4 linked regions of the Homo sapiens genome follow. Each later gene encodes a partner of the first gene's protein in a complex. Each region holds a gene or a part of one and is shown on either strand. Other genes may lie near its edges. The genes, in order: EFTUD2, GPKOW, SNRNP200 and CRNKL1.

What was found.
Region 2: EFTUD2 (region 1) and GPKOW share a complex: the UniProt entries of both Homo sapiens proteins name them as parts of the minor spliceosome.
Region 3: EFTUD2 (region 1) and SNRNP200 share a complex: the UniProt entries of both Homo sapiens proteins name them as parts of the minor spliceosome.
Region 4: EFTUD2 (region 1) and CRNKL1 share a complex: the UniProt entries of both Homo sapiens proteins name them as parts of the minor spliceosome.

Annotation. Positions count from the first base shown.
Region 1 is NC_000017.11:44,889,438-44,896,463, reverse strand, and holds part of EFTUD2 (116 kDa U5 small nuclear ribonucleoprotein component), read left to right. Parts: intron 1-1,938; 5' UTR 1,939-1,942; coding exon 1,943-2,047; intron 2,048-7,026. UniProt on the Homo sapiens protein: Required for pre-mRNA splicing as component of the spliceosome, including pre-catalytic, catalytic and post-catalytic spliceosomal complexes. Component of the U5 snRNP and the U4/U6-U5 tri-snRNP complex, a building block of the spliceosome.
Region 2 is NC_000023.11:49,120,710-49,127,698, reverse strand, and holds the start of GPKOW (G-patch domain and KOW motifs-containing protein), read left to right. Parts: upstream 1-3,963; 5' UTR 3,964-3,976; coding exon 3,977-4,152; intron 4,153-4,922; coding exon 4,923-5,077; intron 5,078-5,176; coding exon 5,177-5,301; intron 5,302-6,989. UniProt on the Homo sapiens protein: RNA-binding protein involved in pre-mRNA splicing. As a component of the minor spliceosome, involved in the splicing of U12-type introns in pre-mRNAs.
Region 3 is NC_000002.12:96,288,521-96,295,546, forward strand, and holds part of SNRNP200 (U5 small nuclear ribonucleoprotein 200 kDa helicase), read right to left. Parts: coding exon 6,968-7,026; intron 4,990-6,967; coding exon 4,796-4,989; intron 4,576-4,795; coding exon 4,452-4,575; intron 3,381-4,451; coding exon 3,231-3,380; intron 2,983-3,230; coding exon 2,872-2,982; intron 2,296-2,871; coding exon 2,164-2,295; intron 1,995-2,163; coding exon 1,806-1,994; intron 1,477-1,805; coding exon 1,279-1,476; intron 860-1,278; coding exon 707-859; intron 598-706; coding exon 517-597; intron 227-516; coding exon 143-226; intron 1-142. UniProt on the Homo sapiens protein: Catalyzes the ATP-dependent unwinding of U4/U6 RNA duplices, an essential step in the assembly of a catalytically active spliceosome. Plays a role in pre-mRNA splicing as a core component of precatalytic, catalytic and postcatalytic spliceosomal complexes.
Region 4 is NC_000020.11:20,049,441-20,056,507, forward strand, and holds the start of CRNKL1 (crooked neck-like protein 1), read right to left. Parts: upstream 2,903-7,067; coding exon 2,852-2,902; intron 1,183-2,851; coding exon 1,030-1,182; intron 1-1,029. UniProt on the Homo sapiens protein: Involved in pre-mRNA splicing process. As a component of the minor spliceosome, involved in the splicing of U12-type introns in pre-mRNAs.

The sequences.
Region 1 (7,026 bases):
GTGTTAGCCAGGATGGTCTCTATCTCCTGACCTCATGATCCGCCCATCTTGGCCTGCCAAAGTGCTGGGATTACAGGCATGAGCCACTGTGCCCAGCCAGTTAACTACTATTTAAGACAAAATTAAATACTGATAAAGGTGCAAAAAGCTCTAGTAGGATAGAGGAATGAGAAATTGAGGAGCTAGGAAAGCTTGAAGGAGGTGGTGGCATTTGAACTGTTTCTTTGAATAGAATTTCAGTAATTGAAGTGGAGAAAACCCACAAAACACTACTTAATTACAAAGGGAAAATGAGTAACTTTACAATGGAGAGGCCTGGCAAACATCACCTTAATGAAGTGATCAAAGTTAACGTTACCACTAATGGGGCAAATTGAAATCATGTATCACCTGATACGAAATGCATTGAGAAGAACACAGCATCACTTCTATGATATTCCTGCCCAAAACGCATAACCTGAATATTATCATAAGGTAACATCAGACAACCTCAAATCAAGGGACATCCTTAAGGATTTCATGACAGTCCTTGGAAGGAAAGACTGAAGATTGTAGATCCAAAGACTGAAGATTGTAGATCCAAAGAGACTAGAGACATGACAACCAAATGCAAACATGATCCTGGATTGGATCCTTAGGTGTGTAAGGTATTATTGGAACAATCTGTGAAACTTGAATGGGATCTGTAAAGAAGGTGGTAGTAATGTGTGAATATCAATTTTCTGATTTTGATGGTTGTATTGTGGTTATGTAGGAGAATGTTCTTGTTTGTAGGAATTACACATGGTGAGGGAGAGGTTGGCAAACTTTTTCTATTAAGGACTGGATAATATTTTAGGCTTTGTGAGCCATATGGTTTCAGTCTCAACTATTCAACTCTGCTATTACAGTGTGAAGGCAACTGTAAATGATGCAAATGAATATGCATGGCTGTTTTCCAGTGAAACTTTTTTTTTTTTTTTTTTTTTGAGATGGAGTCTTGTTCTGTCTCCCAGGCTGGAGTGCAGTGGTGCCATCTCGCCTCACTGCAACCTCCACCCCCTGGGTTCAAGGGATTCTCCTATATCAGCCTCCTGAGTAGCTGGGATTACAGGTGTGAGCCACCGTACCCAGCTAATTTTTGTATTTTTAGTAGAGACAGCGTTTTGCCATGTTGGCCAGGCTGGTCTCGAACTCCTGACCTCAGGTCATCTGCCTGCCTTGGCCTCCCAAAGTGCTGGTATTACAGGCATGCGCCACCGCGCCCGGCCTCCCAATGAAACTTTTTTAATAGACACTGACATTTGAATTCCTTATAATTAATTTTCATGTATCATGAAATATTTTTCTTTTGACTTTTTCCCTGGCAATTTACAAATGTGAAAAAGCATTCTTAGCTTGAGGGCCATGTAAAAACAGCTGGAGGGGCCAGATTTGGCCACAGGCCAGAGTTTGCCCACCCTTACACTAAAGTATTAGGAGGTGATGAGCCATTGTGTCAACAGCTCACTTTCAAATAATTTAGGAAAAAGTAAGTTATTTGTACTGTTCTTGCCATTTTTTGATACTGAGTTGTTTTAAAATTAAATTTAGTATTAAAAAAGTGGAGGGAGGGGGACCTCCTCTTTTGGCTTTGGAGCGCCCCCCACGCCCCATCTCTGTACGGCGGAGCTTCTTCCTTCTGTCTTCTTTCTTCCTTCTTGCCTATTCAACTCTCTGCTCCTTAAAACCCAAAACAAGAAAAGTGGAGGGAAGACTACATAAATAGAGACAAGTAAGGCAGAGACTTGGGGAAAGTACTGGGCTTTGGGAGGAGCATTCAGTAGGTTGATGTCACTGGAGAGGAGGCATGTGAAAGGGGTATGGCCAACCATAAGACTAAGACTAGACAGGTGGAGCCACCACATGAAGGCCTTGATTACCTTGTCAGAATCTAACTCTTCTCTCCTTGAATTTTAGCATCATGGATACCGACTTATATGATGAGTTTGGGAATTATATTGGACCAGAGCTTGATTCTGATGAAGATGATGATGAATTGGGTAGAGAGACCAAAGATCTTGATGAGGTAAAACAAATATATTGCTCTTTTATCTCACTCTTATTTATTTTATTTAAGACAAGATCTCACTCTCTTGCCAGGTTGGAGTGCAGTGGCGCAATCTCAGCTCACTGCAACCTCCACCTCCTGGGCTTAAGTGATCCTCCCACCTTGGCCTCCCAAGTAGCTGGGACTACAGGTATGCACCACCATGCCCAGCTAATTTTTTTTTATTTTTCGTGGAGATGAAACATTGCCCAGGCTGGTCTTGAACTCCTGAGCTCGAGCAGTCCACCTGCCTTGGCCTCCCAAACTGCTAGGATTACAGGCATGAGCCACCATGCCCAGCCCCCTCTTTTTTCTTTTTTTTTTTTTTGAGACAGTCTCACCCTGTTGCCCAGGCAGGAGCGCAGTGGCACCATCTTGGCTCACTGCAGCCTCTGCCTCCCAGGTCCAAGCAATTCTCAATGCCTCAGCCTCCTGAGTAGCTGGGATTACAGGTGTGTGCCACCATGCCCGGCTAATGTTTTTTGTATTTTTAGTAGAGACAGGGTTTCACTATGTTGTCCAGGCTGGTCTTGAAGTCCTGACTTCAAGCAATCCACCTGCCTTGGCCTCCCAAAGAGCTGGGATTATAGGCATGAGCCACCATGCCTGCCCCCCCACCCCCCCCCCCACCTTTTTTTAAAAAACAATGAAATTTTGAATCCTCTGTGTTCCAGTGATACCCTGGGTACGTCTCTTGAGATTGTCCTTTTTATAACATGACTTAGTGGGATCTCATACTGCTCCAGCAAAGCTTCGCTACTAAGGTTCCAAAAGGGAATATGTAGTTTCATTGATGAGATGGTTTTGTAATCTGAGCTCTAGTTGATCATTAGTTCTTCCATTTCCCTGAAGTGTCTTTTAACAGTCATGAATAATTCCCACTTGGAAAAGATACTCAACTCTTCCAGCTACAGCTGCACTGGGAGCTCCCTCACAAGCTCAGATTTTCAGAGATGCATAAAAGCAATAGAAAGGGCCCGGGCGTGGTGGCTCATGCCTGTAATCCCAGCACCTTGGGAGGCCAAGGTGGTCAGATCACACGGTCAGGAGTTCAAGACTAACCTGACCAATACGGTGAAACCCCGTCTCTACTAAAAATACAAATATTAGCCAGGCTTGTTGGCGCGTGCCTGTAGTCCCAGCTGCTTGGAAGGCCGAGGCAGGAAAATCACTTGAACACGGGAGGCGGAGGTTGCAGTGAGCCAAGATTGTGCCACTGTACTCCAGCCTGGGCAACAAGAGTGAGACTCGGTCTCAAACAAAAAAAAAAAAAAATGACTGTTGAGTACTTAGGAAGCTAGCATGAGTTTTATAAAAATAATTTTCTCTTGATAGGATTACTAGGTTGAGCCACAGGTCAGGGGCATGCTGTGGACATGATGTATCTTGATTTGGGCAAGACATTTGAAGTTTTTTATTGATGTCTTATAAACCAGCATTTTTTTTTCTTTTTGAAAATAAGGTTTACAGTCAGGTGTGGTGGCTTACGCCTGTAATTCCAGCATTTTGGGAGGCTGAGGCGCTTGAGCCCAGGAGTTTGAGACCAGCCTGGCCAACATGGTGAAACCCCGTCTCTACTAAAATACAAAAATTAGCTGGGTGTGGTGGTACATGCCTGTAATCCCAGCTACTCAGGAGGCTGAGGCAGGAGAATTGCTTGAACCCGGGAGGTAGACGTTGCAGTGAGCTGAGATCGAGCCACTGCTCTCCAGCCTGGGTGACACAGCGAGACTCCATCTCAAAAAAAAAAAAAAAAAAAAAAAAGGTTTTACAGTGTGTTTTTCTTTAATTATATAGGTAATTCATGAATACATTCTCATTCAAACCATGTTGATAGAAAGGTTTCCTTTGTTCTCATTCCATTCACTCTTCTTCCCCAGTTAACCTCTGTAACTCATGATGTCCTAGTGAAAAGAACATGGGCTGCATCATAATACAATTAGAGGAGGTCACAGCTGGTTGAACAGTGGGACACAAAGATTTTTGATTAATGGGTCACCAGCAGAGCTCTTGTGACATGTCCTAGGCATCTGTGTTTGGTCTTGTCCTTTTCAACTTAAAATATATTTAAATAGAGACAAGGTTTCACTATGTTGCTCAGGCTGGTGTTGAACTCCTGGGCTCAAGCAATCTGCCTGCCTTGGCCTCCCAAAATGCTGAGATTACATAGGGGAACCATTGTGCCCCGTCATTCAGCCTATTAGTGACTTGGGTAAAGATAGAGAACAGAGGTTTATCTAATTTGCACATGACATAAAACTAATGTATTGGATAACAGAATCTAAATTCAAAGTGATCCCAACATACATGAATTTGGGACTAAAAACCCAGTAATAGGCCAGGCGTGGTGGCTCACACATGTAATCCCAGCACTTTGGGAGGCTGAAGCGGGCAGATCACTTGAGGTCAGGAGTTCGAGACCAGCCTGGCCAACGTGGTGTGAAACCGTCTCTACTAAAAATACAAAAAATTAGTTGGGTGTGCTGGTGCGCGCCTGTAATCCCAGCTACTCGGGAGGCTGAGGCAGGATTTTTTTGTTGGGAGTGAGGGCAGGTGGAATTGGTAAGTAACAGAGTTTCTTTTTAGGGTGATGAAAATGATCTAAAATTGATCGTGGTGATGGTTGCACAATTCTGTGAATATACTAAAAACTATTATGCACTTAAAATGGATAGATTGTATGGAATGTGAATTATATCTCTATAAAGCTATTAACAAAAAAATTTTTAAAATAAAGAATAATGGGCTAAACACTTAGTGGCTCACACCTATAACCCCAGCACTTTGGAAGGTCAAGGCAGGAGGATCACTTGAACCGAGGAGTTTGAGACCAGCTTGGGCAATGTAGTGAGACCCCATTTCTACAAAAAATTTAAAAATTAGCCAAGCATGGTGGTACATGCCAGTAGTCACAGCTACTCAGGAGACTGAGGCAGGAGGATGGCTTGAGCCCAGGAATTTGAGGTAGTGGTGAGCTATGGTCATGCCACTGCACTCTAGCGTGGGCAACAGAGTGAGACCCTATGAAGGTTTTTACCTCAGTACAAACAGTTGAGTCACTCATACTCTTTAGTTCTTACTCCTCAGTGTCATTGCTGTGAGAGCTCTGCTGTTATTTAATTAATTTGTTAATTCCCATTTATCTCATTCCCATACCTGCCACCACAGTTCTTTGTAATTTATGTATGTTTCTTTTTCTATGAGTTGCATAGTGTGTGTGTATTTTAAGTAAATGGTATCATTGTCTGCATTGTTCTGTTTCTTTTCCCACTCAGCATCATGATGAGTGGTGCATTTTAGGGTTTCTCCCTGTTGCTGTGTGTACATCTAGTCTGTGGGAACTGACTGCTACTCGGTTTGCCCTGGTGACATTCCTCTCTTAGTGATAGACACCAAGGTTACCTGTCACCAGCCTTCCCTCGCCGTAATTAATAATCCAGTGTACATTCTCATATGTGTCCCTTTATGCAATGTGGAAAAATTTCTTTGGGTTATATTCCCAAGAGCAGAGTTGCTGGTTGTAGGATATTATATCTCTATCTACATATGCTTATTGTATTTATACTTAGTTAATATGTTTATACTAAGTACTGTCAGATTGCCCTTTAAAATGGCTGTACTGGTCTACCCTCTTTCCAGCAGAATGAGGGTTATAGCCTCCTAGTCCACAAGATGCATAGATTTATTATTATTGTTATTTTTTGAGATGGAGTTTCGCTCTTGTTGCCCAGGCTGGAGTGCAATGGCATGATCTCGGCTCACTGTAACCTCCACCTCCCGGGTTCAAGCGATTCTCCTGCCTCAGCCTCCCGAGTAGCTGGGATTACAGGCATGTGCGTCCACGCCCGGCTAGTTTTGTATTTTTAGTAGAGATGGGGTTTCTCCGTGTTGGTCAGACTGGTCTCGAACTCCCAACCTTAGGTGATCTGCCCGCCTCAGCCTCTCAAAGTGCTGGGATTACAGGTGTGAGCCACCGCACCTGGACAGATTTTTTTTTTTAATTATATTGAGGTATATAACAGTAGAGATGCATAGATTTTGGTAATGGGGACAGGAAAGAAAGATGTCCCTTCTAAGGCTGGGTGCGTTGGCTCATGCCTGTAATCCCAGCACTTTGGGAGGCTGAGGTGGGCAGATGACCTGAGGTCAAGAGTTCGAGACCAGTCTGGCCAACGTGATGAAACCCTGTCTCTATTAAAAATACAAAAATACAAAAATACAAAAATTAGCTGGGCGTGGTGGCATGCGCCTGGGTGGCATGCCCAGAGGCTAAGGCAGGAGAATCTCTTGAACCCAGGAGGCAGAGGTTGCAGTGAGCTGAGATCGCGCCACTGCACTCCAGCCCCGGCAAACAAGAGTGAAACTCCATCTCAAAAAAATAAAAAAATTAAAAATTAGAAAAAGCAATGATAAAAGAATATTTGTTTAGTTTTATTTGTTTAGACTTGTTGAGCTACTGTAGACTCGGATAGAGATAATTACAGGCAGTCAGAAATTATTATATAAAATCCTGCAGTTAGATTCATAATATATTCAGCAGTATGGGGCAGGAGAAAACTGGCTTGATAGCTATTTGGAGCCACCACCAGTAGGATATATGTGGCTGCCAAAAGAGCTAATGTAATCTTAGGCCACTTTAGTAGAAGTAGAGTGTAAGATGGTAGGAGGTAGCCGGTCTCACCACTGGAGGGTTTTGTGTTCTTAAGGAAGAGGTTGGCATGCTGGAATTTGTGTGAAGGAAAACAAGCACCCAGCAGTCCCTCTACCCACCTGCCTACATCTGTACTCATATACGATGCCTTCCCTTCCGTTCTTACGAATGATTTGTTCATGTTTCTGTCTACTAGAAACTAATCCCATCCCTTCTCACCACTCAAGACCTTTGGCAATTCTGCCCTCTCTCTCCTGTGCCATCAGTTTTCCCTGTCTACAGGATCATCCCCATCAGCATACACAGA
Region 2 (6,989 bases), on another chromosome or scaffold:
TTTACCTTCCAAAATATGGTATGTCCCCATTTCATTCAATTTTATATTTTTTTCTTTTCTTTTCTTTTATTTATTTATTTATTTATTTATTTGAGAGGGAGTTTAGCTCTGTCACCCAGGCTGGAGTCCAGTGGCACAATCTCAGCTCACCACAACCCCTGCCTCCTGGGTTCAAGCGATGCTCCTGCCTCAGCCTCCCGAGTAACTGGGATTATCGGTAACCACTACCACACATGGCTAATTTTTTATTTTTAGTACAGATGGGGTTTCACCATGTTGGCCAGGCTGGTCTCGAACTCCCGACCTCAGAGGATCTGCCTGCCTCAGCCTCCCAAAGCGCTGGGATTATAGGCATGAGCCACCGTGCCCAGTCCATTTAATTATATTTATAGCAGCTGGTCATGCAGTGACTCACGCCTGTAATCTCAGCACTTTGGGAGGCCAAGGCAGTCGGATTACCTGAGGTGAGGAGTTTGAGACTAACCTGGCCAACATGGCAAAATCCCACCTCTACTGAAAATAGAAAAATTAGCCCAGCGTTGTGTCAGGCACCTCTAATCCCAGCTACTCAGGAGGCTGAGGCACGAGAATCGCTTGAACCTGGGAGGTGGAGGTTGCAGTGAGCCGAAATCACACCACTACACTCCAGCCTGGGCAACAGAGTGAGACCCTGTCTCAAAAAAAATATATATGTATATATATATATATTTTATATATATATATTTATTTACAACTTCCAATGTAAAGGCGTATTTCTTTCATCCAAGGTGTGTGCTGTAATTCATTTACTGCATCCCCTTCTGTTGATAATTTAAGTGGTCTTCAAGCTTTTGCCACAATAATATGATAATGAATCTCATAAAAAATTATTTTACACATCTTCAATGATATCCTTGAGCCTAATTTGTAGCAGAATTATATTACTCTTTCTTAAGAATATTTAAGTATCTGTCATCTACTGTACAAACTATTTTATTTTTATTTTACTTATTTACTTTTTTAGAGGCAGGATCTTGCTCTGTCACACAAGCTATAGTGCAGTGCCACGATCATAGCTCACTGTATCCACCAACTCCTGGCCTCAAGTAATCCTCCTGCCTCAGCCTCCCATAGTGCTGAAAGTACAGGTGTGAGCCACCACACCCAGCAACTCTGTATAAGCCACTCTGTATAAACTCTTTTTTTTTTTCATTTTAAATTTTTTTTCATTTTCTAAGGCAGAGTTTCACTCTGTCGCCCAAGCTGGAGTGCAATGACGTGATCTCGGCTCACTGCAACCTCCACCTCCCGGGTTCAAGCGATTCTCATGCCTCAGCCTCCTGAGTAGCTGGAACCACAGGCGCCTGCCACCATGCCCGGCCAATTTTTGTATGTTTAGTAGAGACAGAGTTTTGCCATGTTTGCCAGGTTGGTCTTGAACTCCTGGCCTCAAGTGATCCACCTGCCTCGGCTTCTCAGAGTGCTGGGATTACAGGCATGAACCACCGCACCCTGCCTGTATGAACTCTTGAGGTCCTACACAAGAGAGATCTGTCTCAATAATCTTTTTTTTTTTTAATTTTCTGACTGCTTCATTTTTCCTTCATATCAGTAATCTTTGAAGCCTTAGGACCTGGTTCTCACAATATGTTTAATGTTGCTATATGTATATGTGTGTGTGTTGCCCAGGCTGTAGTGCTGTGGCCTGATCACCGCTCAGTGCATCCTCAACCTCCTGGGCTGAAGTGATCCTCCCCCCTCAGCCCTCTGAGTAGCTGGGTCCACAGATGTGCGCCACCACACCCCATTAATTTTTAAATTTTTTTGTAGAGTCAGGGTGTCACTAGGTTGCCCAGGGTGGTCTCAAAGTCCTGAGCTCAAACAATCCTCCTGCCTAGGCCTCCCAAAGTGCTGGGATTATAGGCGTGAGCCACTAAGCTCGGCACATGTTGCTATATTTTTAAAATATGTATTTAAATGTCTGTATTCCCTACTAGACTACAAGTTTCTTTTTTTTCTTTTTCTTTTCTTTTTCTTTTTTTTTTTTTTTGAGACAGAGTCTCGCTCTGTTGCCCAGGCTGGAGTGCAGTGGGGCAATCTTGGCTCACTGCAACTTCCACCTACTAGGTTCAAGCGATTCTCCTGCCTCCACCTCCCGAGTAGCTGGGATTACAAGCATGTGCCACCACACCCGGCTAATTTTTGTATTTTTAGTGGAGATTGGGTTTTGCCATGTTGGCCAGGCTGGTCTCAAACTCTTGACCTCAGGTGGTCCGCCCGCCTAGGTCTCCCAAAGTGCTGGGATTACAGGCATGAGCCACTGTGCCCAGCCTATTTTATTGATATTTGAATCTAGTGCCTTGTTGAGTATTAAAATCTGACATCAGTAGGCACTATTCTTTTTCTTTTTTTTTTTTTTTTTTTTTTGTTTTTCTTTTGTTTTTCTTTTGTTTTTGAGACTGAGTGTCACTCTATAGCCCAGGCCGGAGTGTTGAGATCTCGGCTCACTGTAACCTCCGCCTCCCGGGTTCAAGCGATTCTCCTGCCTCAACCTCCCGAGTAGCTGGGATTACAGGCATGCGCCACCACACCCCGCTAATTTTTGTATTTTCAGTAGAGACGGGGTTTCACCATGTTGGCCAGGCTGGTCTCGAACTACTGGCCTCAAGTGATCCGCCCGCCTCGGCCTCCTAAAGTGCTGGGATTACGGGTATGAGCCTGGCCAATAGGCACTATTTCTTTCTTTCTTTCTTTTTTCTTTTTTAAGACGGAGTCTCGCTCTGTCGCCCAGGCTGGAGTGCAGTGGCAGGATCTCGGCTCACTGCAAACTCTGTCTCCCGGATTCAAGCAATCCTCCTGTCTCAGCCTCCCAAGTAGCTGGGGATACAGGCGCCACCACCACGCCCGGCTAATTTTTGTATTTTTAGTAGAGACAGGGTTTCACCATATGAGTCAGGCTGGTCTCAAAGTCCTGACCTCAGGTGATCCACCAGCCTCGGCCTCCCAAAATGCTGGGATTACAGGCATGAGCCACCACACCCCTCTAATTTTTGTATTTTCAGTAGAGACGGGGTTTTTTATGTCTATTATTTATTTTATGTCTATTATTTATTATTGTACACAACTGACGCTCCATCCCCCCCACCCCCGACCTTTTTCTTTTTTAGAGATGGGGTCTCGCTCTGTCACCCAGGCTGGAATGCAGTGGTGCGATAAGAGCTAAGTGCAGCCTCGAATTCCCAGGCCTCAGGCCATCCTCCTGCCTCAGCCTGCGGAGTAAATGGAACTACAGGTGCGCGCCACCACACCCAGCTGATTATTTCTAAATGATTTACTTCATCAACACTTCCCACATAAGTAGGGCACACATTAGGCGCTCCATAAATACTTGTCAAACGCCTACACGAAGGAAGATTAATGTCTGGCAAGAATGAATCCACCTTCCACCATGCCTACCCCGCTAAAAACTACATTTCCAGCCAGGCGTGGTGGCTCACACCTGTAATCCCAGCACTGTGGGAGGCCGAGGCAGGAGAATCACGAGGTCAGGAAATCGAGACCATCCTGGCTAACACGGTGAAACCCCGTCTCTACTAAAAATACAAAAATTAGCCAGGCGTGGTGGCGCATGCCTTTAGTCTCAGCTACTCGGGAGGCTGAGGCAGGAGAATCGCTTGAACCTGGGAGGCGGAGGTTGCAGTGAGCCGAGATCACGCCACTGCACTCCAGCCTGTGAAACAGAGCGAGACTCCATCTTAAAAAACAAAACAAAACAAACAAAAAAAAAACTACATTTCCCTGGGCGCTTGGCGCGACGCGCTCCCACCACGTTTGAAAGAGCGACAATTACTTCCCACGGCCCCTTACCGCCCCCTCCCGCCGGTGCCACAGTGGTTGATGGGAAGGTAGTTTTTACGCACTTTGGCCGGCCCCTAGCGATCTGAACCCAAACTAAATTTCCCAGCAAGCAGCGCGCCGGCCTGGGAAAAGGAGCAAGATGGCTGACTCCAAAGAGGGTGTTTTGCCGCTGACGGCTGCTTCCACTGCCCCAATTTCATTCGGCTTCACTCGCACGTCCGCACGGAGGCGGCTGGCCGACTCGGGAGACGGCGCGGGGCCATCTCCGGAGGAGAAGGATTTCTTGAAAACCGTGGAAGGGAGGGAGCTGCAGAGGTGACGCGCCGGGTCTTTCACCCCTTGGAAATCTCTGCGGTGGGCGTAAGCGGGAGGGAGGAATCTCAGTTGTTTGTCTTGGTGACAGTGACCTGTTAAGCCTGAAGCACAGCCTGAGTAAATTCGTGGAGGCCAGAAGGCGGGAGTTTATAGGAGGGGGTGAGGAAATTGGGCCTGATAGCTGTGGGAATTGCGAAGAGAGGATGTATTACTGAGAAGAAGTGTCTTTAGGACTTGAAGACACTAAGGTCTGTGCGTTCTGGGAGAAGGAAAGAATGAGAAAATGACAGGACCTGCTAGTGTCTCAACTGAAGGGCTGAGGCGTCCCCGATATGGGGAACGGGATGGAGCGGCAGATTCAGGTTGATGGAGGCCACCATCAGCTTAATGAGGAGAGGAGTGTCTGAGGGGTCTGAGGGAGGGATTTCCAGAAGAGAATCAGGCATCTAGGAAGCTGTTTGGGAACCTGGAGCTGGGGAAGGTCTGGGCTGAAGATAGTGATTTGTGGGCCATTGTAGAAGCCGGTATTGAGTTAAACAGAGAGTGCAGGACTTATTTCTCGAAGGCACTGACATTTATGAGTTGGGGGCACTGGGGAGATAATCCAGAGAATGCACGATCAGAGAGGAACAGGAGATCCAGACATGGAGTAGGGAAGACATGGTCTGTGGGGCTGGGGTGAGTTTGGCTCTTGTGTTTTCTCTGAATGAAGGAGTGTGACCCACTGACCCTGCCATTCTCCCAACCCCACCCCTCTGTGTCCACATCAGTGTGAAGCCCCAGGAGGCCCCCAAGGAACTCGTCATCCCTTTGATCCAGAATGGCCATCGCAGGCAGCCACCAGCCCGGCCCCCTGGGCCATCCACAGATACTGGGGCCTTGGCGGATGGGGTGGTGTCCCAGGCTGTGAAGGAGCTCATTGCGGGTGAGTGATACCCCTTTACCCTTCCCCATTGAAGGAAGAAGAGGAAGAAGGTGGAAGGATAGAGTGGGACTTCATTGCTCCCTCCTATTCTTCCTTTAGAATCCAAGAAGTCTCTGGAAGAGAGAGAGAATGCGGGTGTCGACCCCACGCTCGCTATCCCCATGATCCAGAAAGGATGCACCCCCAGCGGGGAAGGGGCAGACAGCGAACCCCGGGCAGAGACAGTGAGCTGGCCCCTTGTCCCCCTCCTGCCCCAGCCTTTCTTTGCCCTGTCCGCCAGGCTGTGTCCCTGCACGTAGCAGGGAAAGTCTGTGTGTGTGCTAGAGGCCCGCCACCTGCCCCTTCTCCTGTCATCATTTTGGAAGCATTACCAAATGAATCTGGGTATCTGGATGCTAAAAACGTACTTGAATCCTAGGATTATCTGAATGAGGTGTGCAGCAAAGGGAACAGGAAATGTAAAGGCCCTGAAGGTAGACACTGCCTAAAGTGTTTGCGGAACACCAAGGAGACCAGTGTGACTGAAGTGGAATGAGTAAGGGGAAGGGGTAGTAGACGAAGTCAGAAAGGAGATGGGGGTGCTAGACCAGGCAGGGCCTTGTAGGCCATTGTGAGGACTTTGGCTTTTACTCTGAGTGAGATGAGAGCCTGGACAAGCCCTGAGCATAGATGAAATATGATTTATGATTTGACAGTATCCCTCTGGAAGCTGTGAACAGACTCATTAGTGAAGGTGGAAGCAAGGGGATGAGTAGTCCAGGCTAGAGATGCTGGGGACTTAGACCAGAGTGGTCTGGAAGGATAAGTAGGGTTTAGTGAGAGAGGGAAGAACAGAGTGAGTACTCCTGTTAGTAGTAACAGCCCAAGCAATGGCATAGTGGTAGAAAATCGATATGGTGTGTCCATCAGTGAGGCAACATGTGGTGTATCTGGAGTGAATGGGAAGGAGTGATGATGGGAGGTGACAAGAGGGGACGTGAGAGGCATGTCTACAGAAGTAACCAAGTCTGTCTTTCATACCCACAGACCTGACTTTTCACCTCTTCTTTCATAAATTTCTTGCACTGCTTCTTTTGAGTCTAGTTCTTCTACAGCCCCACACCACTCTCTCTTTCAACTGAACTGTTCTCTTCAGCCTTCAGATGTGCCCTGGTTTCCTTCAACATTTTTTTGTTTGTTTGTTTTTTGTTTTTTGAGATAGAGTCTTGCCCTGTCGCCCAGGCTGGAGTGAAGTGGTGTGATCTCGGCTCACTGCAACCTCCCGGTCCTGGGATCAAGCGATTCTCCTGCCTCAGCCTCCCAAGTAGCTGGGATTACAGACACGTGTCACTACCGCCTGGCTAATTTTTGTATTTTTAGTAGAGACGAGGTTTCGCCACGTTGGTCAGGCTGGCCTTGAACTCCTGACCTCAAGTGATCTACCCACCTCAGCCTCCCAAAGTGCTGGGATTACCGGCGTGAGCCACTGTGCCCAGCTCCTTCATCTTTAAAGAAAAAAAAGATCCTCACTTCCCTCTTCATCCTTTCATCCTGTTCCAGCTTTGGCCTCATTCTTCTAATTTTTCCCTCTATAAACCTCCTCCTGCAGCTTTCTACATATCAGGTGACCAAAAATTCCATCCATCCTTCCTCTCACTCAGCATAAAAACCTTGGAGTCAGCCAGGGGCGGTGGCTCACGCCTGTAATCCCAACACTTTGAGAGGCTGAGGCCAGCGGATCACCTGAGGTCAGGAGTTCAAGACCAGCCTGGCCAACATGGCGAAACCCCATCACTAGTAAAAATACAAAAATTAGCTGGGCATGGTGGCACGTGCCTGTAATCACAGCTACTCGGGAGGCTGAGGCAGGAGAATCGCTTGAACCCAGGAGACTGAGGTTGCAGTGAGCTGAGATCATGCAACTGCACTCCAG
Region 3 (7,026 bases), on another chromosome or scaffold:
AACCAACTACCCGGCAAGAGCAGAACTAAGCACTCCTCCCATCTCACTAGGGTCGGGCCTCCTTTCCCCAGGATGCACACAGCACACAGGGATTGAACTGTTCAGGCCCCTTCTCACAGCTGCCATACAACTCCGCTCTCACCTGTGTGACATACACCATGTCAGCCATCAGTGCAAAGCCCTCCAATTTCAGCTGTGAGATGAAGGCTTGCAGAAGAACGTTGATCTGTAAAGAAGCAAAATCAGCCAGCAGGAGACCAATCACTGAACAGTCCAAGAAAGGGAATTACATTTCTGCTCTGAGCATCCAGGCCAGGTGAGATTTGCTACAGGTCTTGATTTACAAATACTAAATAATTGTTATTTCATATAAAAAGAACATGCGAGAAGGCTGCAAAAACTAGGAGAACTGAGCAGGAAACCACACATGAACCCAAATTCAAGGTTCATCTTTTAGAAGATTATGAAAACCACTTAATCCTCATCCTTATCAAAGCAAAGAGGAGAGGAGCTCACCTTAGCACTGGGTTCCTCAATGCTCTCCTTTACAGGGATAGGCACCCTCTCCAGCAACTTCTGCAGCTCCAGCTTCTCCTCCTGCCACAAGGAGGAAAAGGTCAAGGGAAAGCCTTGTGGCCGAGGAGGGACACCATTCAGTGACTTGGTGAGCACCAACTCCCCGCCCCATCATGCTGCATAGGCTCACCTCTCTCACTGTGATGTTCTTGAACTCAGAGGACAATGAGAAGACCCTGAAAAGCTCAATCTCACTCAGGGTGGGCTTCAGCAGCTGGTTGTAAGTCTGCACTGTATCATTGGTGATGTAGTAGTGGCTGGCTATACGGCCCAGTTCTGTCACCTGGAGAGAAGGTAGACTCAATCCAGTGCTGACTATTAATGAGCTCCAACCTCTAACTGTGGACCATAAGTTACTGTCCTATAGGTTTTTTGTACTTTTTTTTTGGTAAAGTATATGACCCAATGTCATTATTGTCCTAATAGGACAACTGGATGAAGTCACAGCAGTACAAGTGCCAGGCCCAGGCACATGAAGAAAAACAGCAGAATAAGCTGACCCATAGTGAAATGATGTCTGCACGGACAAGACAGCTGAATTATCCACCTCAAGTTATGGGAAAAGCTACCCATTTTTCTGCTGTTCTAAGCAACAGGTGATTAGATAGGCAGTACTCACATCAAGAGAGCAATCTGAAAAATTTTTTCCTGGGCCAACAACTTTTGCTGAGACCTTTGCCTCAAAACCCTCACCCCACGCACCTGGAAGTTGCCCGTCTTCTTGTCGTACTTGACCAGATTGTTCTTGTCCAGCATCAGGGCAGCTGTATGAACCAGATCTAGTCGGCGCTGGTCCAGCAGGGGATCTCCCTTGAGGTCATCATGAGAGATGCCATAGAGGGTTGGGGATCGCAGCATTCGGATATAGAGGTAGGCATAGCCCAGCCAGTTCACCGCATCCTACAAGACACAGCTCATGGTTCTTAGCATGGAGAAACTCTTGATGTCCAAATGACAGGCTCCCATGAATTGCTTAGAAATTAATTCCCAACTACAAGGATGCATATTACATCGTATTCTGAATGTTTTTAGCATTTCATTATTAAAAAGATCTAAGCGTCTTCTAAGATCTTGGTAACAAGGGGAACTATCTGCCAGACCCAAGATGTGGGTGCAGGGATGGAAGGCCTCGGACGCTGCTGGCCCGCAGCACAATAGGGACCGACCCACTCCTGGTGCCTTGGTGTCTGCGGGGAAAGCATGAAGCACAACAAGCAGTCCTCCCCTACCTTGGCATTCTGGACATTTCCTAGCACGATTTCTGCATTGAGCATGTCAGGAAGCTTTGAAACCATCTGGCTTTCAATAGGAAGTTGTTGATTGAGGAGGGACAGGTAGTACTGTAGCTCCCCATGAGATGTGATGAGTATGCCTTCACCCTTGGTGTCATACTGGGGTCTTCCGGCACGTCCCAGCATCTAGATCAGAGACAGCGAACCAAGAATGCTATGTCAAGAGAATGTCTGAATTTTGATGCAGGTATCTACATTACAGAACTAGACCTCTGATCTGCTAGCTTTCCAGCATCCCTGCATTTCAGGCAAGGATACTGATCCCTGCTGAGAATAAACTCAAAAGGCTCTGTACCTGCAGAATGTCCAGTGCTCCCAGTTCTGTCCAACGCCCCTTCTCTGGACTGTACACCTGGGTGCCTTTGATGATGACTGTATGTGCAGGGAGATTCACACCCCAAGCTAGAGTTGCTGTGGAAACTAAAACCTACAGAGGCAAAACAAGGTAATGAGGAGAACAGATGCCATCACCAGGGGTTAATATCCCTGGCTTCTCTAGGCAGTTGGCCTCAGAGCTTCTCTCAGGACTAGCCGGTAGGGCGCGTGGGGTCCCAGTACTTGTCAATGTGACACCAGAATAAAGAGGAAAGGTTTCCTTGGGTTCCTCATCTATTCAGTAATGAACATTTCAAGGTTCCAGAGGCACAAGTGCAGACTTGTATTAAACAACCTTAAAGTTACTAGAAAAGGTAAAACAGAGCCTATCCGGAAAGAGGGAACGACAAGGGCACGCGTGCCCCCATGAGACACTGTTTGGAGCTATCTGAAGTCACCAAAGTGCTTGCTTCACTATGCTTCTCAGACTATCCTAAACTCAAGCAAGGTGGGAAGAGTTGGGAGAGTAGCATAAGGTTCTATTTATTGTGTCCACCACAACCCTCTGACCTGGGCTAGCTGGGCCAGAAGCAATAAAGTACCAGGAGCAAACATGGCACAAACTTGACATTGCCCATCTTCTGAAGTATGTCCCACCTGCTCCTCCAAACGCTTTGCACCCCCTCACCTGAATATGTTTATCAGCAAAAAGATCCTCCACGAGTGTTCGGTCAACCCTGGTCATGCCTGCGTGATGAATAGCAAAGCCATAAGGCAGAAGATCCTTCAGCTCTAGGTTCTGTGGAACAAAGAACCGGGGATGAGGCGAGCCTTCCTGTAGGACTCATCCAAGGACTAAGGAAATCTCCTCCCATGAGACCCTGCCCCTTAACTATTATGTGGAATAGTAATAATCACATCCAGACAATCAACCTTAACCCATGGGAAACAACAATACCACAGTACAGTCCTAGAGGAGCTGTCTGGGGCCTGAGATGGACACAGCTGCCAGGTAGGAATGAGAGAACCCAGCTGGCCCCTCCTCACCTTGCACTGCTCAGCTTCTGTTCGCAGGACTTCTGTGGAGGCTGAGCCCTCCCTCAGAAACAGACCCAGAGTGTCCTTTTCTAGGCACATGTCCCGGATGGCCCTGGCTGTCTTTCCAGTCTCCTTCCGGGAGTGGACAAACACCAGCACCTAAGGAGAAGCCACAGTTTGCTACAGTCACGAGATACTCACAGCCCCAGGGCACCTGCAGCAGGAAGCAGAAGTTGCACCATCACCACCAGAAGCCAAGGTCCTGGAGAGGGGCAAGGGCAGGAATGTGTGCAGGCTCAGAGGAAGCCTAAACACGGCTGGAAAGACTTTTAAGGGAATGCACCCACCAAGTTCACAGTCCTGGAGCTGAGAAATTAAACCAACTTCAACATCCTATCTTGAACAGCAACTTTAAATAGACTACAACTACAAATTCGGGCCTCTCAACTCAGAATTTATGTTCAAGCACCTAACAAGAGTCAAAGCTGCATGAAAATGTGTCTGCAAAATAACAACTAAAACATTACACTACTTATAAAAGGATTTAGGAAATAAGTCTGAGACTAGTACACTGTTGTAGGGAATGAAGTCTTCCTAGTATTTAGTGCCAAGAAAAGATCTGTCTCTTCATATAAATTCATATGCTTCTTTTCATCAGACAAAAAGAAATACAAAACCAGTCACTTTTCCTTATTTTTTGTTAGTTAACATTGCTCAACTCGACTTTCAATTTAAAAATTCTATCACACTGTCTAGTAAAATGCCCTCTAGTTTTTCATTTTCCTCTTTTTATTGTCTTGCATTTTTAGTGTAAGTGACCCCAAATCTTTTATGGAGGGACCCTGGATAATGCGAATGCACAAAACAATTATCTGGGACTGGGGATTGCTTGCTGGGGGGATTTTTAATTCTCCAACTCTCTAATAGTTGTAGGGCTCTTCATGTTATCTATTTCATCTGGGCTGAGTTTTGCTAGTTAACTGGTAGTTGTTGGAGAACTGGTCCATTTCTTCTGAATTTTTAAAGTTATGAGCATAAAATTACTCATAGTATTCCCTTATTATCCTTCCAGTGGCTATAGGTTCTGTAGTAATATCCCATTTCATAGCTGATATTGGTGATTTATGTTGTGTCTTCTCTCTTTTAATTTCTGTCAATCTTCCCCAATTATTGGTGAATCAAACATTCGAAAGAATGGGGTTCAAGAGTAACCATAAACCACGGGCAAACCTGATTTTTTCCAGCATGTTCCATGATTTTTTCATAGACGATTTCATTCATGATCTGGAAACGCTTGATAGCTTTTTTCTCTGTGATACCCACATATGTCTGTTCCAGAGGCACTGGACGGAAGCTAGAAGTTCAACAGTTAGACAAATGAGGCTTTGGCAGAAAATACTGTGGGAATAAACAGTCTTTTTCACTGCCCCAAGAGCAATATTCCTCCTTTATGATTCACACCACATCAAAACCCAAAGGCCCTTCTAAAACCCAACCCAGTAGCACTCCTTGGAAAAGAGGAAAGAGAGCAGGATGGTCACCTTGGCAGAACTTTGCCCAGTCTTTCCTGATACCTGTTGTCAAAGTAAAAGAGACCCTTGGCAGGGTCAACACGTAGAAAGGTGGCTACATCTTCATAGTTGGGTAGGGTGGCACTGAGACCAATGAGTCGGACATCCTCTTGGGTCATCTCAATGTTTCGGATGGCCCTGGCCACTAAAGCTTCTAAGACAGGACCTCTGTCATCGTGGAGAAGATGAATCTCATCCTACGGAATTGGAGGACAGAAATTACCTCTAGCACTAGAGATACATAGTCCCTTTTCCTGGAATTGTCCCATATTGTAGGCATATAACCTAATATGCCTAAGAAAAAAGACAAGGGATCCCAAGCCACAGATGCCCAAAGGATGGAGACAATATTTCCCATGAAATACTCCAGAAAGTAACAGACTCTGACCATGAGTTGCTTTGGTACAGTTCAGTAACATACTTTGTATAAAGAAATTCTGAAACTCAGATAAATGAGTTTAAACTTTACTTAAAGGTAAACTTCTTTATGAAAAAGGATATAAATATGATCTGATCAGAAGCTTCACCTCTGGCAGTTATAGTTCCCAAGAACAAAAGCTATCACACATCAAATGATGAGTTTGAATAGTCTAAAGCAGTGCATCTCAAATTTTATTAAGTATCCCAAAGCCAGGGGATGTTGTTAAAAAGGAGATTGTATTCAGCAGGTGTGGGGTGAGGCCACAAATCCTGCATTTCTAACAAGCTCCTATTCCATGCTGCTGCTGCTATGACCCCAACCATGGATCAGGCTTCAAGTAGCAAAGCTCTAAAGCAGGGACCAGAAATGTTTTTTTTAAAAAGTCAGATGCTCCATCTCAAAAAAAAAAAAAAAAAAAAGCCGGGGGCAGTGGCTCACGCCTGTAATCCCAGCACTTTGGGAGGCTGAGGTAGGTGCATCACCCAAGGCCAGGAGTTCGAGACCAGCCTGGCCATCAGATTGGTGAAACCCCATTTCTACTAAAAATACAAAAAATTAGCTGGGCATGGTGGCGGGCAACTGTAATCCCAGCTACTCGGGAGACTGAGGCAGGAGAACTGCTTGAACCCGGGAGGCGGAGGCTGTAGTGAGCTGAGATTGCATCATCGCACTCCAGCCTGGGCAACAAGAGTGAAACTCCGTCTAAAAAAAAAAAGCCAGACAGTCAGTATTTCAGGCTTTGGCCCACGCAGCCCCTATTGCAAATACTCAGCTCTGCCATTGCAGCCAAAAGCAGCTGTAAACAATACATAAACAAATGGGTGTAACTATGTTCCAACAGAACAAAGCCAGTACCCACAGACTGCCAACCCCTGCTCCAGAACACTGAAAACCAACACGTGAAGTCTCCTTTCTTGCTTTTCCCAGACAACTTAAACTATACTCAGACTTAGTCACTAATCTCTGGAAGTTTCTGTGTATATGGAATACAATATCCTGCTTCCTCACTCATTCCCTCAGAGAATGGATTCTTTTACTTATAAAACCCTAAATGATGTTGGATATGATGGTTTTTTGTCTATCTGTTTACATTTGTTTCAAAATATTTCAGACATAGCTTCTTGGCCTTTTGGCTTAAGATCAAGTGTAGTAAAATATTTCAGACATAAAAAAATATATAAAGAATAACATGGCAGGCTAGGCGCAGTGGCTCACGCTTGTAATCCCAGAACTTTGGGAGGCTGAGGTGGGTAGATCACGAGGTCAGGAGTTCGAGACCAGCCTGGCCAACACAGTGAAACCCAGTCTCTACTAAAAATATAAAAATTAGCTGGGCATGGTGGCAGGCGCCTGTAATTCCAGCTACAGGGGAGGCTGAGGCAGGAGAATTGCTTGAACTCGGGAGGCAGAGGCTGCAGTGAGCCAAGATCGTGCCACTGTACTCAGCCTGGGCGACAGAGCTAGACTCCATCTCAAACAAACAAACAAACAAATAAATAAATAAATAAGATGGCAAACACAAGCTGACAATAGCTGTCATTATAATGTTTTGGATGGCCCTGGCCACCAAAGCTTCTAAGACAGGACCTCTGTCATCGTGGAGAAGATGGATCTCATCCTACGGAATTGGAGGACTAGTCATTACAAAGGCTAGTGCCTACAGAAAAGGCAGCAAAGAAACATTTCGCATGAAAACCCAGCAAACCCGCCCTGACACAACTGGACTCTATATTCTACGACTGCTCCCAACTCACCAGAATGATGAGCCGCACCAGCTGGGTGTAGGTGCGCTCACCACCCTTGCGGGTGATGA
Region 4 (7,067 bases), on another chromosome or scaffold:
GGCAAAAAGGGTCAAGTCAAAAGACAAATGACTAAAAATGACAGCACCCTTGGTCTATTTTAAGTCTTGTACTAAAATGGTTATTCATTTTGTTCATATTTAAGAGAAATTACATCCTGGAATCCTTGAGGAATAAGAAACCCACTACAGAAGGTTACAGTCAACTAACTGATACTTTAAAATGGTCTATGCTTGTCCCTAATAAAAAATGTTTTTGACTATTACCTTTAAGTCCTCTGGTAATTCTCAGAATTTCATATATAACAGCATTAGTGCTTTAAAACAGTCCCACATTCTAGAGTGAAGAGGTCAAATCAGATCCCAAAGTCTTCTCATGGTCCTTTTGCAGACCTCAATTCCTTTTCCTTTCTTTCTTTCTTTCTTTTTTTTTTTTTGAGACAAAGTCTTGCTCTGTCGCCCAGGCTGGAGTGCAGTGGCACGATCTCGGCTCACTGCAGCCTCTGCCTCCCGAGTTGCTGTGATTCTCATGTCTCAGCCTCCCGAATAGCTGGGATTACAGGCACCTGCCACCACGCCTGGCTAATTTTTGTATTTTAGTAGAGATGGGGTTTCACCATGTTGGCTAGGCTGGTCTCAAACTCCTGACCTCAGGTGATCTGCCCGCCTCGGCCTCCCAAAGTGTTGGGATTACAGGCGCGAGCCACTGTGCCCAGCCAGATCTCAATTCTTAACACAGAAGGTGGTATAGACAGAAGTACACAGTGCAGCCTTACTAAGCATACCCTCCTTCTTGTTGTCAGTTGTTCCATCTGCTAAACTTCCGCTCACTTTGATTCAGCATCAAAAATTATGCAGATTCAATTTCTTTACACTTTAACCAGACAACTCATGGCATATTTTATATAGTTCAGAAAAATGCTGTTATCTGGTAACCAGAAGTACATTATTCATGCGTCTGGAAACACTTAACCTCATCTTGCCCTACAGAATCCAACCAATGAGGAGCTTTTCAAACTGACCGATACAGTCTTAACAATTAGTGGACTGAAAGATACCACACTGACTGACCTTCCTTTTCCTTAGTTTATAATCATTTAATTCTTCTTCATCTGTGATCTTCTGTTGAGGTGGAGGTGGAAGAAGCTCAAGTTCTCTTTCTTTAGCCTCTCTTAAGAGTTGTTCAGCAGTTATCTGTACCTCAGCCGGGGCTTTGTTTTTCACCTTTTAAGAAAGAAGACATTTCTATTTTTAGTAGTTGCTCTTCACACAAGGCTTAAGAAACAAACATACATTTTTTAGGATATGAACTTTGTTAGTATTATCACAAGATGCCCTTTTTGTATGACATGTTCCCATTCCTCCATGAGACTGAAAAGAAAAAAAAAATACCGTTTTCTCTCTTATTCATAGTATCTACTGCAAAGCCATAGGTAAAAGTCTCAAGAGAAAAAGGTGGCAAAAATAATAGCAAGTTTTCCCTTTTAGATGAGTATAATAATAAACTTTGAGGCCGTCTAGGTAAAATTCTGACCAGAGGTTTTGTTTTATCAAAATGTGTAGCACATCTTATTAACAGCATTACAACCTGCATTTACAGAATTCTTCAACTTATTTAATGCCCCGGTGTATAACTGGGTTTGGTTTTACATGGCACTTCAAGTCAAAGGCAATTTCAGTAAGTTCTCATCATTAGACTGTAAGCTTCTTGAGGTCTTAGAAGCTTACAGTCTAACGTAGCTTAGAGCTGTGCTGTCCAACACAGTAGCTATGAGTCACATGTGGTGAGTACAAATTGAGGTGGACTGTAAGTGTAAAATACACATTGGTTTTGAAGATGAAGTATAAAAAAGAATAAACTACCTCATTACATTTTTTATACCGATTACATGTTGAAATGATAATATTTTGGATACATTAGCTCAAATAAAATATATATTATCAAAATTAATTTCACTTTTTTGCTTTGTTTTTACTTTTTAATGTAGATATGAGAAAATTTAAAATTTCATATGTGGTGTGCATTATATTTCCATTGGACCAGTGATGCCCAATAAAAGTTTATGTAGCTGAATTATAAAAAATGTTACTTAATGCCACATGTGGAGTAATGATGATAATGGTGATAGCTCATATTTAATAAGCACTAAGTGCCAGACACAGTGTTACTTGCTCTATATGCATTACTCCTGCGAGTCAGACAAATAGTTATGTAAAGGTCCAGTTCAAGAGAGTCATCCGGGCTCAAGAAAGACTGGAGGGAGGGTATCTGTAAAGGCTTCAAAGTCTGCCACATATTAAGCACTTGGTAAGTATTAGCTATCAAAGGAAATACCAGATAGTAAGTCTACTGTTTAATTAACTTATGATACTATACTACTCCTACCGTCTACTCTCGCCCTCCGCTGTCAGCTGGGCTAACTCCTATTCAGCCTTCAAGTCTCAGCTTAAAGGTCATTTCCTCAGCAAAATTTACTTTCAGGACCCCTTCATACGACCCCCTTATTCACGCCCATGGCATATTCTACTTTGCCTCTCGGTAACATCTAGCAAGGTCGTCTTTATACAGAAACTCGTGTTTTGAGTACTGCTTGTGGCCAGCGTACGAGCGTAGCTTCCCAGCGCCCAGTGCAGTGCCTGGCTCAGTAAATCTTCACCGAACCACCCCACTCCACTCCCCAGCAAAACCACCCCAGAACGAAGGCCACGCCAACGCGGGTCGTGCTCCGCGATGACAAGAGCCCGCGCCCCACCACCAGCTGCCCTTCCTCTCCATCTCTCAGGGTGAGCCTTCTCCCCGGCGGGAACACTCTCTCCCAACCCGGGCACCCTCAGGGCTGAGGGATGCCCCTTTCCTAGGCCACCTCCTACAAGGCCCCTCGCGATCGCCTACCTTGGCCACTTTGGGAATCCGCTGCTTCCCGGCCGCGGTGGAGGCCGCCATGTCTGCAGCAGTCGACCTCTGGACACCTGTCCCCGGCACGGACGCTAGAAATCGGCTCTGAGAGCTCACCGAAACCACAAAGCTTTCAGAAAACAAACAGGATCTCGGAACCGGAAGCGGAACTTGCAGGACTGACCTTTGACCTCTCGCTTGAGCCGTGACGGAGGCGGCACCGTTTCCATGGTGACCAGGCTGCGCGTCCTCCTTGCGGCAGCGCGTGGAGTGCGGCGTCCTGGAGCTGCGGATGAGGTGGGTAACGCCGTGCTGACTAGCAGCGACGCAAGGACTGCGGTGCAGGGCGTCCAGGGCGCATCCCCAGGTCAGCCTCCGGAACTGGGATGACCAGGCGAGGACGAGTGGCTCTGTCGAGCCGTGGCGCCCTGCAAGGGAGTAAGAACGGAGCTCCAATCTGGATGCTCGAGGGCGGGGGAAGAAGGGAGAGCGAGGAAACTACCATTCCCAGCATGCGACGGGGCGAGCTGCCGCCCTTTTAGGCTGCAATGCCTCGAGCATTGCATTCTAGTAGTCTCTGGGTCCACGCCCCCTCGTTTCTGGTTTCGGGACAGTTGTGCCCAAATAATTCTAAGGTGCCCAAATAATTAACTCTAAGGCTTGGAATTAAAAATAACAGAAGGTACTTTGAAGCCAGATATTAGGAAAAAATATAAATAGAGTAACTGGAAAACAACTCAGTCTTGTGATAAGAAACATGTTTAAATTCTGTGTGTGCCTTAATTACTCTAGTTAAATTTTCTTAGCCTCAATGTCCTCAACTATAAAACAAGGCTAATAACATCTGTTTCACTAGGATTAAAGACAAATGCTCAGTAGATGTTAGCTGTTATAATACTTAACCTGCCCTCAAAAACTGAAAAGCAAAGGTTAAGAGAATTTTTTTTAATAGACATTTTTAGAGAAGTTTTAGGTTCACAACAAAATTAAGTGGAAGACACAGAGATTTCCTCCCTCCACAGCTTCCTGCTATCAATTATTGTACCTCTTCCCTCCTCTAACAGCCTCCAACTCTTAAAAATATCCTCCACCAGAGCAGTACATTTGTTACAATCTTGAACCTACATTGACACATCATTATCACCCAAAGTTCATAGTTTATATTAGGGTTCACTCTTGGTGTACATTCTATGAGGTTGGACAAATGTATAATGACATGACTTGGCAGCTCATTTGTTAGGATAATTTCCACAGTTGCAAAGCTCTTTTGGTGTTTGGGGAAAATATATATTTATGTATGTAGTAATATCACGTCTACCAATGCAGATATTACTTTCAACAAAAGATTTATGCAGATTTCTAGAACTGCAGTCAGTTATAACCAACATCAATGTATTTGCCATAACTCTTTATTAACCATATTATTTAGATATTTTATCTCACTTTTCAAAATTTAAATAGAGAAGATTTTATATCACTTTCATAAAGCCACCTAACAAAATAAATAAATATTAAAAAGATGTTTCTTTGAAGTGATTTTCCTTAAATGTGTTACTGTAAACAATTGATTTACCAAATGAATCATTGGTTTAATCATCTGTTGCCTTTGCTCAAAAGTACAAACATGCTAGAATACTTTGCTTCTGATCACCATCCTTCTCTCTTACATTTCTGTTGTCTGGCAATTCAGTTCATCTCTGTGTGTGTTTTTTTTGTTTGTTTTTTTTTTTTTTTTTTTTTAGGAAAAATGTATTATCCTTCTTACTTTTTGCCATCAATGCTTTTGTAGATATACCTTCATGTTTACCTTCTTATTTCCCAGCATTTAATCTTGTATTCCACTTCTTTCTGATTTTATTCTTCTCAGAATATACCATCTCCTAGTTCTTTCTACAAGATTCTTTGAATTCTTTCAGTCTTTGTATGAAATTGTCTTTATTTTATCTTCATTTTAAAGTGATTGTTTAGGTTTATCAGTCTAGGTTAATGGTTATTTTTTCCTTTTATATTTTTAAAACACTATTCTAGTAGTTAGAAAACTATGGGCCGTAGACTAAATTCAGCCCATTGACTATTTTGTATGGACTGTGAATGAGCTAGGGATATATATATATATATATACACACACACATACATACACATATACACACACACATTTTACATTAAACTTTATATGTAGTTTACATTTTAAACATTTTTTAAAAATTACATGGCACATGAAAATTATACATAAGTCAACTTTCAGTGTATGTAAGTAAAATTTTGTGGGAATACATTCATGCTCATTTGTGCCGATATTGTCTCTGGTTGTTACTGTGCTACAATGGCAGAGTTGACTAGTTGTGTAGACAACATGTGGCTCATAAAGCTTAATGTATTTATTCTCTGGCCTTTTACAGAAGTTTGCTAACCCCCGTGCTACTGGCTTCTAATGTTGCTCATGAGAAATATTCTGTCAGTCTAATTATTTTTTATAGACAGTCTGTCTTTTGTCAGGTTCCTTTAAAGTTTTCTGTTTGTCTTTAGGGTTTTGTAGTTTTACTATATATTTGGAGTTTATTTGTATTTTTTGCTCTGAACTGAAGGTTCATGTCTTTCATCCATGCTAAAAGTAATTAGCCATTATTTTCAAATGTTTCATTTATTCCTTTTGGAATTCCCATAAGACAGATGTTTTTCATTCTGTCTTACATGTGTCTTTACTGAATTCTGTATTTTCTGTTTCTATGTGCTTCTTTCTAGATAATTTGTTCATAAGTATCTTCCAGTTTATTTTCTTTATTCTTCTGTTTTTAACCCATCCTCTTAGTTTAAATTTTAATAACCACGTATTTCATTTTTTAAGTTTCTGTTCTTTTTTAAATAATGACCTGTTCTCTTCTCATGACTTTTGTTTCTCTTTCTATATTTCTTTATTATAAACATACTTAGTTTGTAGTCTGTTTCAGAGTCTATCATCTAAAGTTCTTGGTGACTCCCATAATACACAGATTGTGTGGACTAGAATGCCATACCCACTTTAGTCTAGAATTTGGACTTCTCAGCAGTATTTTTGCTTTATTTTCTACCTAGAGCTTTGTGTAGAGAAAGCTTGTCACTTTCTTGGGCTGGTGAGTTTAATTTTTCTAGCCCCCTCACTTACCGAGGGGCCCATCCAAAGTCCCAGGTAGATGCATGGTTTAATTTTTAATTCTCTGTTTGGAGTGAGGTCCATTCTATCCCCAAAACCTGTGTCAGATCGGCTCACATCATTGCCACCTGGTTGGAGAATTTCCCTCGCTCGCTTTCTTTCTTCTTTTCTTGTTTTCTTTTTACCAAAGTCAGTTATCTAATTAATTATACTTCCTTATTTTATTCAGAATTTTTATATACTTGTAGCATTAGTTTATGATATGTTTCACAAACAAGATGTCTCATTCCAATTTTGCTTTCAATTTAAAACCAGAACAAGGAATGACAATATTTATGGTTAGCTTCGATAGGAGTCTAGACATTATTAATTTCTCCTTCATTGTTTTCCCTGTTTTGAGCTCACTGGCTAGTATATAATAAAATGGCTTTCCCTATGAAGGAAAGAAGGGAGGGAAAGAGAGAAGAGAGACTTACAGAAATTGAGACAATGAGAGAGAAATTGAAATCATTTTGTGACCTACTGTTTTTGTCAACAGCATTTCCCAAAGTGTCCTTCTGGAACGTTAGGTTCTCCACTGTTGCCGTCATTAGAGATTCTCTTCCCAAAGAGTGTCGGAAAGGCTGGGTTATACAAAGAAAACAAGTTGCTTTATTATGGAACCTCTCAAAGATGTTAATGGGCCTGGTGGCCCTTCAGGAAGCCTATTGCGAGCATTTCCTACACTTAACCACAGAACTTTTTTGGTCTCAAAATATGTCTCAAGACTGCTGACCTTCAGGGCTCCAGTTTGGAGAACTCTATTAAGAACATAGGCAGCAGCTGTCAGTATTTCCCCAGTAACTCTTCACCACATGCCATCGTGGCCGATTAAATATAAGAGGACCCTGAATCCGTAAATAATTCCTTTCAATGTTTTTCCAATTCTATTGTTAGAATTTTTTAAAGCAGCTTTGTTGGAAACAAAGAATATAGTTGCAGAAACTTCTAAACAGGCCAGTTCTCAGAAACTTCATTCTCCTATGGAGGAACGTCAGCTGGTTTGCAGTGACAGTTGTCACAGACTACACCCAGGGGAAAACG